Regions from separate parts of the Homo sapiens genome. Here regions 1 and 3 are each linked to region 2. The links come from fine-mapping of genetic effects on gene expression. A gene starts in region 2. Each other region holds a variant in brackets. All regions are shown on one strand. Distances are from middle to middle.

The links. PIP is the estimated chance that this variant, and not a neighbour inherited with it, causes the effect.
Region 1: its variant is the best candidate, but not a certain one, in a credible set for the expression of ASAP1 in blood mononuclear cells (TOPMed, PIP 0.62).
Region 3: its variant is the best candidate, but not a certain one, in a credible set for the expression of ASAP1 in whole blood (TOPMed, PIP 0.58).

The regions. Positions count from the first base shown.
Region 1 is chr8:130,176,460-130,179,116 of GRCh38, reverse strand. The region is part of intron 9 of ASAP1 (ArfGAP with SH3 domain, ankyrin repeat and PH domain 1); the gene reads left to right. Among named protein-coding and RNA genes, the nearest start is that of ASAP1-IT2, 93 kb to the right of the region's middle. The variant G/A (reference allele first, on the strand shown) is at 1,027.
Region 2 is chr8:130,442,029-130,444,685 of GRCh38, reverse strand. ASAP1 (ArfGAP with SH3 domain, ankyrin repeat and PH domain 1) reads left to right here and starts at 1,012. Exons shown (of 30, transcript NM_018482.4): 1 at 1,012-1,226. RefSeq lists silencers at 928-1,027, 1,068-1,157, 1,168-1,327, 1,378-1,457.
Region 3 is chr8:129,983,405-129,986,061 of GRCh38, reverse strand. The region is part of intron 1 of CYRIB (CYFIP related Rac1 interactor B); the gene reads left to right. Among named protein-coding and RNA genes, the nearest start is that of MIR5194, 24 kb to the left of the region's middle. The variant A/T (reference allele first, on the strand shown) is at 1,539.

The sequences.
Region 1 (2,657 bases), 270 kb after region 2:
AGTGTCTTCCATCTTCAGTGTTTTATACAAATCAGTAGCTCAAATTAGGGCTTAAAAATATTGTCTTCCTTACAAGAAGACAAATACTTACAAATACTTCTTCCTAAATTTGATCGCCTGTGGAGCTCTTATTACAGATGCATGATCCCCTGTCACTGAAGAGTCCTTTCTGATGACCCCCTACCCTGACTCTCTTACTTGGCATTTTGCCTTTTTTTTTTTTTCCTTTGAGACGGAGTCTCACTCTGTTGCCTGGCTGGAGTGCAGTGGTGCAGTCTCGGCTCACTCTAATCTCCGCCTCCTGGGTTCAGGCAATTCTTCTGCCTCAGCCTCCCCAGTAGTTGGGATGACAGGCGCACGCCACCACACCCAGTTAATTTTTTTTTTGTATTGTTAGTAGAGACTGGGTCTCACCGTGTTGGCCAGGATGGCCTTGATCTCCTGACCTCGCGATCCACCTTGGCCTTGGCCTATTATTGCACCATTTGCACCATGTATTTCCACCTGGAGTCTTCAGTTTTGTTTTGTTTCATCTAAAATAAGTGAATTTAAATAGTTGGGGCATTAAGAATACTTTGCATTTGTACATGGATTCCTATATAATTTGTGTTACATTTTGAGAAATACCATTGTTCTACACTGGCACCATTTTTGTTTGCCTATATTGCAGGGCTATCTTTTTGTTATGTTTGTGATTCTGTGGTGCCACATTTGCTTGTTTACTTATTGGGTTAACTTTCATGGGTTTTCTGGTAGAGTCTGTGTGTGAAAATGTGCCAGCTACACATGGAGACTCTACCAGAAAAGTAAAGTCTGTATTAGTAAAGTCTGTATTCGTTGATGGAAGTTATACCGAAAATAATGGAAGGACCTTCCAGAAATGGAATGGACAGCTCTCATAAGCAAAATAATGTAAAGGTCGTTTGGACTAGATAAAATACTCTCAAAAAAGTTAAATTCATAATTTCCTTTGATCTTTCTTATTCTTTTCAATAGTTATATTTAGAAAGATACCTGTATTCAACT[G/A]AAACATTTAAGGAGGTCAGCATTAATATTATGTCAAAAGCACAAAGCTTGGGTTAGACAAATTAGATGAGTCAACATTTTGGCTCTGCAGCTGGTTAACTGTATTCTTAATCAGGTACTTCACTAAACCTCAGTATACTCACTCGTCAAGCTGGGTTACGATTCTGTAGCAACCACCTTAGGGTTTTTGTAAGGCTGTAAAAAGTGAAAAAGAATGCATGTGGAGTGCTTAGCCCAGTGCCTGCGACCTTGTATGTGTTGACAGCTGTGATGATTCTAAGTGGCATTTAAAATTATTTATTTATATATTTTATTGTCTAGGATATTTCTCTTAAGGAAAACCTTTTTGATGATCAAATTGTTGTTTACATAAATTTGATGATAACTTTTTTTCAAAGTAAATTGTACCTTATATAAGTGTCTTTCAAAAATAAAAATAATATATTGAAGTAGAAAGTTTTCACCTTCTTAAGATTAAGTTTGTTTATTGAAGACCTGGATTAACTAACTTACTTTTGGCTTTGTAGTGTGGTTGGGCAGTTATGAAACTTTGGCCTGTGTTCTAATGGTCCCTGATTTTAGTATTGGGTGGAATTTTTTATCTTTCATCAAATTTAGTTTTCCTGGAAACATTTAATTCCTTTGAAAGTTTTAAAGAAATAAGTGAATCTCTCAGTCTCCTGAATTCTGCAGTACTTTGGCAGCAAAACTGATTTCACCTGACTTTAGAAATCTATTTTCACGTTAAATTCTCTAAGTTTATAAGGAAGAGTTTGGCCTACACAAACAAGAGTTTTTCAAAATAGAAGATGCTTTGTAAAGTATACATATATTAGCCTTCGCTAGTAATGGTGATGCTAACTTGTATAGCTAATGCATCCTCCCTTTATTCTCTTATTCTTTGCTTTTTCCCTTTCCACAAATATGTATTAGTCTTTTACCAAAGATCAGCTACTGTGCCCAGTTCTGGGACAGAGATAAAGCAAGGCTTTTCCGCTCAGGAGTTAATTGTCCAGGTATAGGAAGTAAGTCAGATCCATTATTAATCATAATGGGGCTGGACAGTGACGGGTACCATGGAGCATCAAGAGGAAGAGAGACGGCTGGGCGCGGTGGCTCACGCCTGTAATCCCCGCACTTTGGGAGGCTGAGGCAGGTGGATTATTAGATTACAGGAGTTCAACACCAGCCTGACCAACATGGCAAAACCCCGTTTCTACTAAAAGTACAAAATTAGCCAGGTGTGGTTGCGCATACCTGTAATCCCAGCTACTTGGGAGGCTGAGGCAGGAGAATCGCTTGAATCCAGGAGGCAGAGGTTGCAGTGAGCCGAGATCACGCCATTGCACTCCAGCCTGGACAACAAGAGCAAAACTCTGTCTCAAAAGAAAAAAAAAAAAAACAGGAAGAGAGACATCTGACCAGGAGGACTGAGGAGAAGGTATTAGCACCTTGAAGGAGGTGGTGGGACTTGTCATTGAACTTGGAGGATAGCTAGGATTTTGTTACCAGATTGCAATCTGGTAGACGAATGTCCCCTAGGTCAGAGAGAGATCATCAGAAGAAAACCCTACACAGTAAAAACCTTGTAGGGAGAGAGATGTTCTGAGACATCAAGTAGTAGAACCATG
Region 2 (2,657 bases):
TGTGAGGTTTTCTGTTTCGGATTTCACCAGAAGGGGGTCTGCCACAGCCACTAACCATTTCCTCTGCAGAGAGCCGTTTCTGAAATGCTGCAAAGAAAAACAATCACCCAATGATTAGGAGGGAAATTAAGTTCTAAAGAAAGACTACTGTCTCTGACTTTGAAAGTAGACATAGATATGCACAATATACATCCCACAAATTAAAATCCTCCTTTCTCTGATGTCTTTTAATGGTAATAATAAGGACAAGCATGGCTATCATTTATTTGGGCGTTTCCAATGTGCCAGTCCCTGTCTAAACATTCAGCTTCCAGATCAAACCTATGAGGGTGGAATTAACATCCATTTCATAAATGGAAACTGAGGCTCAGGAAAGTTGAGCGAGTTACTCAAGGTAACATGAGTAGAAAAAAGGCCATATTCCAACCGGACACAGAGCCTGCAGCCCACACAATTACTCTCCATACTGTTCCTATACTATCCTGACTGGGAAGGTCCTGTTCCCTTGGCACTGGGCAAAAATAAAATTATAAGAGCAGAGAGGAAGTGGTGAAAGGGGGCAGCCTGGTGAAATCATTCCTTTACTGAAAATAGGGGTAACGGCCAGGACAGTGCAGGTCCATCCTCTGCAGATGGAAGACAGGCACGTCCTTTGCCGCTGTCCCGGCCTTAGAAAGGCACCTTCCGCGTCCAGGGTTTTCTGTGGATAAATCCCACCCCTTCCACCTCAGGCGGGGAGGAGGCCGGCCGGCCGGGGCATGGGGCGGAAGGCGAAGGACGCCCGACCCCGGCCGAGGTCTGGGGCCCCTCCCACGCCCCCCTCGTGGCTGCCGGCGGGCCAAGGGTTAAGCGAGGCGGGAGCCCCCGGCGCGGAGCGGCTCGGGGCCGGGAATGCTTAGTCAGGATTCCGATTTCCTGTCGAAGTGTTTGGATTTCCTGAAACCCGCGCCCTCCGCCGCCGAGCGGGATCGTGCGAGCCGCTCGCGTCGCCGCGGCCTCCTCCCCCTCGGCACATGGTCGCCCGCCCCTTCCTGCGCCGCGCTCGGCTCCCGCGCCTCGCCTGGCCTGGCCGCTGCCGCGGGCGAGCACTGTGCGCTGGGCAGCCCCGGGCCCGCGCCTCCCGCCCAGCCGGCGCTTCCCGGTCGCAGTTCGCTTTCCCACCCGAGAGCCGCGAGCGCCCGGCCGAACCCGCGATGGAATAATGCCCAGCGGCCCGCCAGGTCCCGGTGAGTTGCGGGGCGCTCGGGCGCGCTCGGCGGGGCCGGGCGGAGTCGCCCACAGTCGCGGGCGCCCCCTGCCCAGTCTCTCGCGCGAAGAAGGGCGCCGGGACGGGGCGCGGGGCGGGCTCCCGGCTCCTCTCGCAGCGGGGTGTCCTTCTCCGCGGGGAGGGCGCCGGCCCTGGGCTGGGGCGTGTGCGGGACGCGCGGCCAGGCTCTGCGGGGCCGGGCGAGGCCGCCCGGTGGGGGGGGGAGGTCTCCTCGCCTCCAGCTCGGGAGAGGGGGCCCCTGCAGTGGGGCCGGGGACGGGGCCCGCCCTGGGGGGTTTCGCGTCCCCCTCCGGGGGAGGGCCCGGGACGACGTGCTTGGCGGCCCGGACCCCGCCGATGGGGCGCCCTCCCGGCATTGTCTCTGGTGCAGCCGAGGAAAGTTCCCCGCGGCCCCCGGCCCCTACCCGGACCCGGCGCTGCTTGGCAGGCCCCAGGCCACTTGCCTAAAGCAAAAGAAGAGAAACGAAAGGGAAGGGGGTGGGGGGAGTCCTACTTGGAGCTTGGGGTTGGCTCCTGGGCGGACCGTGAAGTGGCTTGTGTTTTCTGCTTGTACCATTTTGGGACCTGCTGCGTTTTCTGAGAGCGACATGAAGTTTCAAAGAAAAAAGAAACTTGCCGGTGTCCGGTTTTCTGCGGTTTGATACATCCCAAGAGGTTCATCTTGGGCACTTCTAAAGCAGTTTCCTTTAATAATGTGGTTTTCCAGTAGCTCAGGGAGAAGGATGGTCAACTGCAGACCATCATCGTTAACTTGACCTCAACTTTACCTGTACTCGTCAGGAAAGCAAAAGAACTTTCTCTCGCATTTTCCCCTGTCTACTCTGTTAGGTTATCTTGGCGTGATTGATTCTGGGATGACATCAGGACCTGGATTGCTGAGTAATGTTTTGGGATTGTAAAAGCTTATCAGTTTTTAGGCCAGGGTTATCTGTATTGCAACCTTCATCCCAAAGCCTTTCTGTTTTGCAATTGTAGCGCGGCCAGATAGCTTTAAGAAAATGCGGGTCTTCTGGAAACACCCAGTGAACAGTTTGGAAAGAAAAAGATCTTTGAGAACAACTGATTCACCCCCTTCAGAGAAGGCCCAGAAAGGTGACCTGACTTGCCCAAGATCACATGGCCAGGAGTAGTTTCCACTTCTTCAGGCTCAGTCCCATGCCCCTTCTGTGTTAGATTTTGATCTGTTAGCCATGAAACAGATTTGGAAACGTCTTCTTTGCGTCACAGCCTTCACCACTTTAGTGCCTTCTCTTCTGTCCTGTTAATGCTGCTATTTTTGAGATATGCACTTATTTCAAACTGCATATTTTGAGATAGGGAGTTAAAAAAAACAAAAATCACCTAACGCCACTAAGTGGATTTGGAGATTCAGCTACCAAATGGATTTGAA
Region 3 (2,657 bases), 460 kb after region 2:
TTCTTTCCTTGCTGCATCCTGGGGGAGGTCTGGGAGTGCTGGGGGAGGGACACTTAGGGTGAGGACTCCTGGGGCAGCAGCTACTTCCCAGCCTGTGTGGAAGGACTCAGTATTTTAACAGCTGGGCAGCCATGCCGGTGGGAAGTGGCTGGTTTGAAAGTGTTCAGGGTAGGGCTGGGGTAGACTGTTCCTCATTTCCATCCCTTCCCAACACCTGCTCACCCTCAGGGGCTTTTCAGTGGGCCTTTTGCAAAGTGAATGTTGCATTGATTTGTTGTGGAGGTGGACTGAGAAAAGTGGAGGGCGACTGCTCTGGGCTGGTGTGGTTGTTCAGGACCTGCTGCCCTGTACCCTGAGGTCCTGCCAGACAACCTGTGCCACACTCACTCTATTTGCTCTGAAGCATTTTTTTTTTCTGAGAGCAATCAGGTTTATAGGCTTTGGAGAGTGTGCAAATATTTGATTTTAATTAAGGAAGTCTGGAATGGGGAATAGAAAAAGGTTACTTCTCATTTACTATTTCTGGGGGGTGGGGGAGGATGTGGTACCTCCAGCCACATGGTGGGTCACCATTGTCTCCAGGGTGGACCAGGCACCCAAGAGGAATTTGGGCAAGCGAGAGGCAGTGGGTCACCGGCTCATGGAGCCTGGGGAATTTCAAGGGGGTGAGTAAGGCAAGAGGGTGAGCAGTGTGGAGCTTTCCCGGGCCAGGATGGAGCGTGGAGAGGCCGTGAGAAAGACCGGCCTTCTGGATAGTGGCACCTACTGCCTGTTAGTACTTGCTGCCAGCCGCTGTGGTGCCCATCCCATCCGCTGGATGATCTCACCTAATAATCCTCACCACAACCCTTACTGGTAAATATTATCAGTCCCACTTTACAGAAGAGGAAACTGAGCCCAGAGAGGTTAAGAAACTTGTCCCAGATCACCCAGCTACTGAGTGGCAACCCTGGTGTGTCAGGCTTCAAAGCTGTACTAAAAACCACTACTTGGGTGGGGCGTGGTGGCTCACGCCTGTAATCCCAGCACTTTGGGAGGCCGAGGCAGGCGATCACCTGAGGTCAGGAGTTCGAGACCAGCCTCAACATGGAGAAATCCCATCTCTACTAAAAATACAAAATTAGCCTGGCGTGGTGGTACATGCCTGTAATCCCAGCTACTCGGGAGGCTGAGGCAGGAGAATTGCTTGAACCTGGGAGGTGGAGGTTGCAGTGAGCTGAAATCGCGCCATTGCACTCCAGCCTGGGCAACAAGAGCGAAACTGTCTCAAAAAAACAAAAACAAAAACAAAAAAAACCCCCACCACTTGGTGGTTGGAGGGCATTCCTAGAGGACCCAGGACTATTTTGAGGAGGACAGGTGGGGTCCCATGAATTAAAGCCCTAGCGTGTGCAATGAATGAAGTGTTATCCTGACTGGTAGAGCCTGCCTGTTTTCTGTAAGAGGGAGGAAAAAAGGTGTTGGGGGAGGGCAGGGCAGTGGCCGCATCCTGGGGTACAGGGAGGAGAATGAGCCCTAGAGCCCAGTGTTCCTGTGCC[A/T]GCCCTGCCCCCAGTATCATGTGGCCTTGGGTGACTCATCCCATCTCTCTGAGCCGGCTTCTTTCCCAGTGAGATGAGGGTAGCAACCACAGTAACAGCAGTGACTGTGGGCTTCCTAAGTGCCAGGTGCATGGATTAGGCCTCCCGCACTTGGATGCTCAGTGGGTGGGGAAGAGGGCCTCCCTGCCAGCCCTGCCTGGGAGACACTGGATGGGGAGGTCCTGGGCAACTGGAAAGTGCTCAGCCATCTGCAAGGAGAGGGAAGCAGCTTGTGTCCCGTGTCTGGCTTCAGGCCCCTGCAGCCCTCTGACTGTTGTCCCTGCAGCCAGAGAGAGGCAGGGGACTGTTAAGGATAGGACTTCTTGCCACAGCCCTAAATAGTGCTTCTCCCTGCTGGTGGGCGGTGTTCCCCGCCTTGGCGGCTCAGCAGGATCACCTCCTCAGGCATTCAGAGGAAAAATACGGAGGCCCCAGCTGTGCAGCACCATCACCTGGGAGCTGTCTGTAAACCCTGATCTCCGATTCCGGGGAACAATATTTTTAAAAAGCTCCCGGTTGATTCCAATCAGAGGCTGGCTTCTCCTAGGACCTGCTGCCGGTTCCTGCCAATGGGATGTATTCGTTAGGGCCTGGGCGGGGCCCCGGCGAAGATCGGCTTTATGGGGCAGCGCTTCGGCCTCTTGCACCCGGTTCCGCACCCAGCGGGAGGGAGAGGGCTGCGTCCTCTGCAGGCCTCGCGGAGCCCGGCGATGCGCAGGACGTGCTCCCGGGCGGTCCCCGGTGTCCCCGCATCCCCGCGTCCCCAGCGTCCCCGCATCCCTGTGGCTGGTGCAGAGCGCACGTGAGCGCTGCCTGGTCCCTGCTCTGGGACTGGCCTGGATCCCTCCCTGCCCTGGATCCCTTCCTGCCGGTGGGGCTGTGTGGGGCCACACTCAGGGTGACCTGGCACAGTAACTCCCACCCAGTGCCTGCTGCCCAATGGTGTCTTCTTATTTAAAAACTTTTTTTTGTTGTTAATGTAGCAGATTTAACAGGTTTATTTTTTATACATATATATATATTTATTTTTCTTTTTTGTTGAGATGGAGTCTTGCTCTGTCGCCCTGGCTGGAGTGCAGT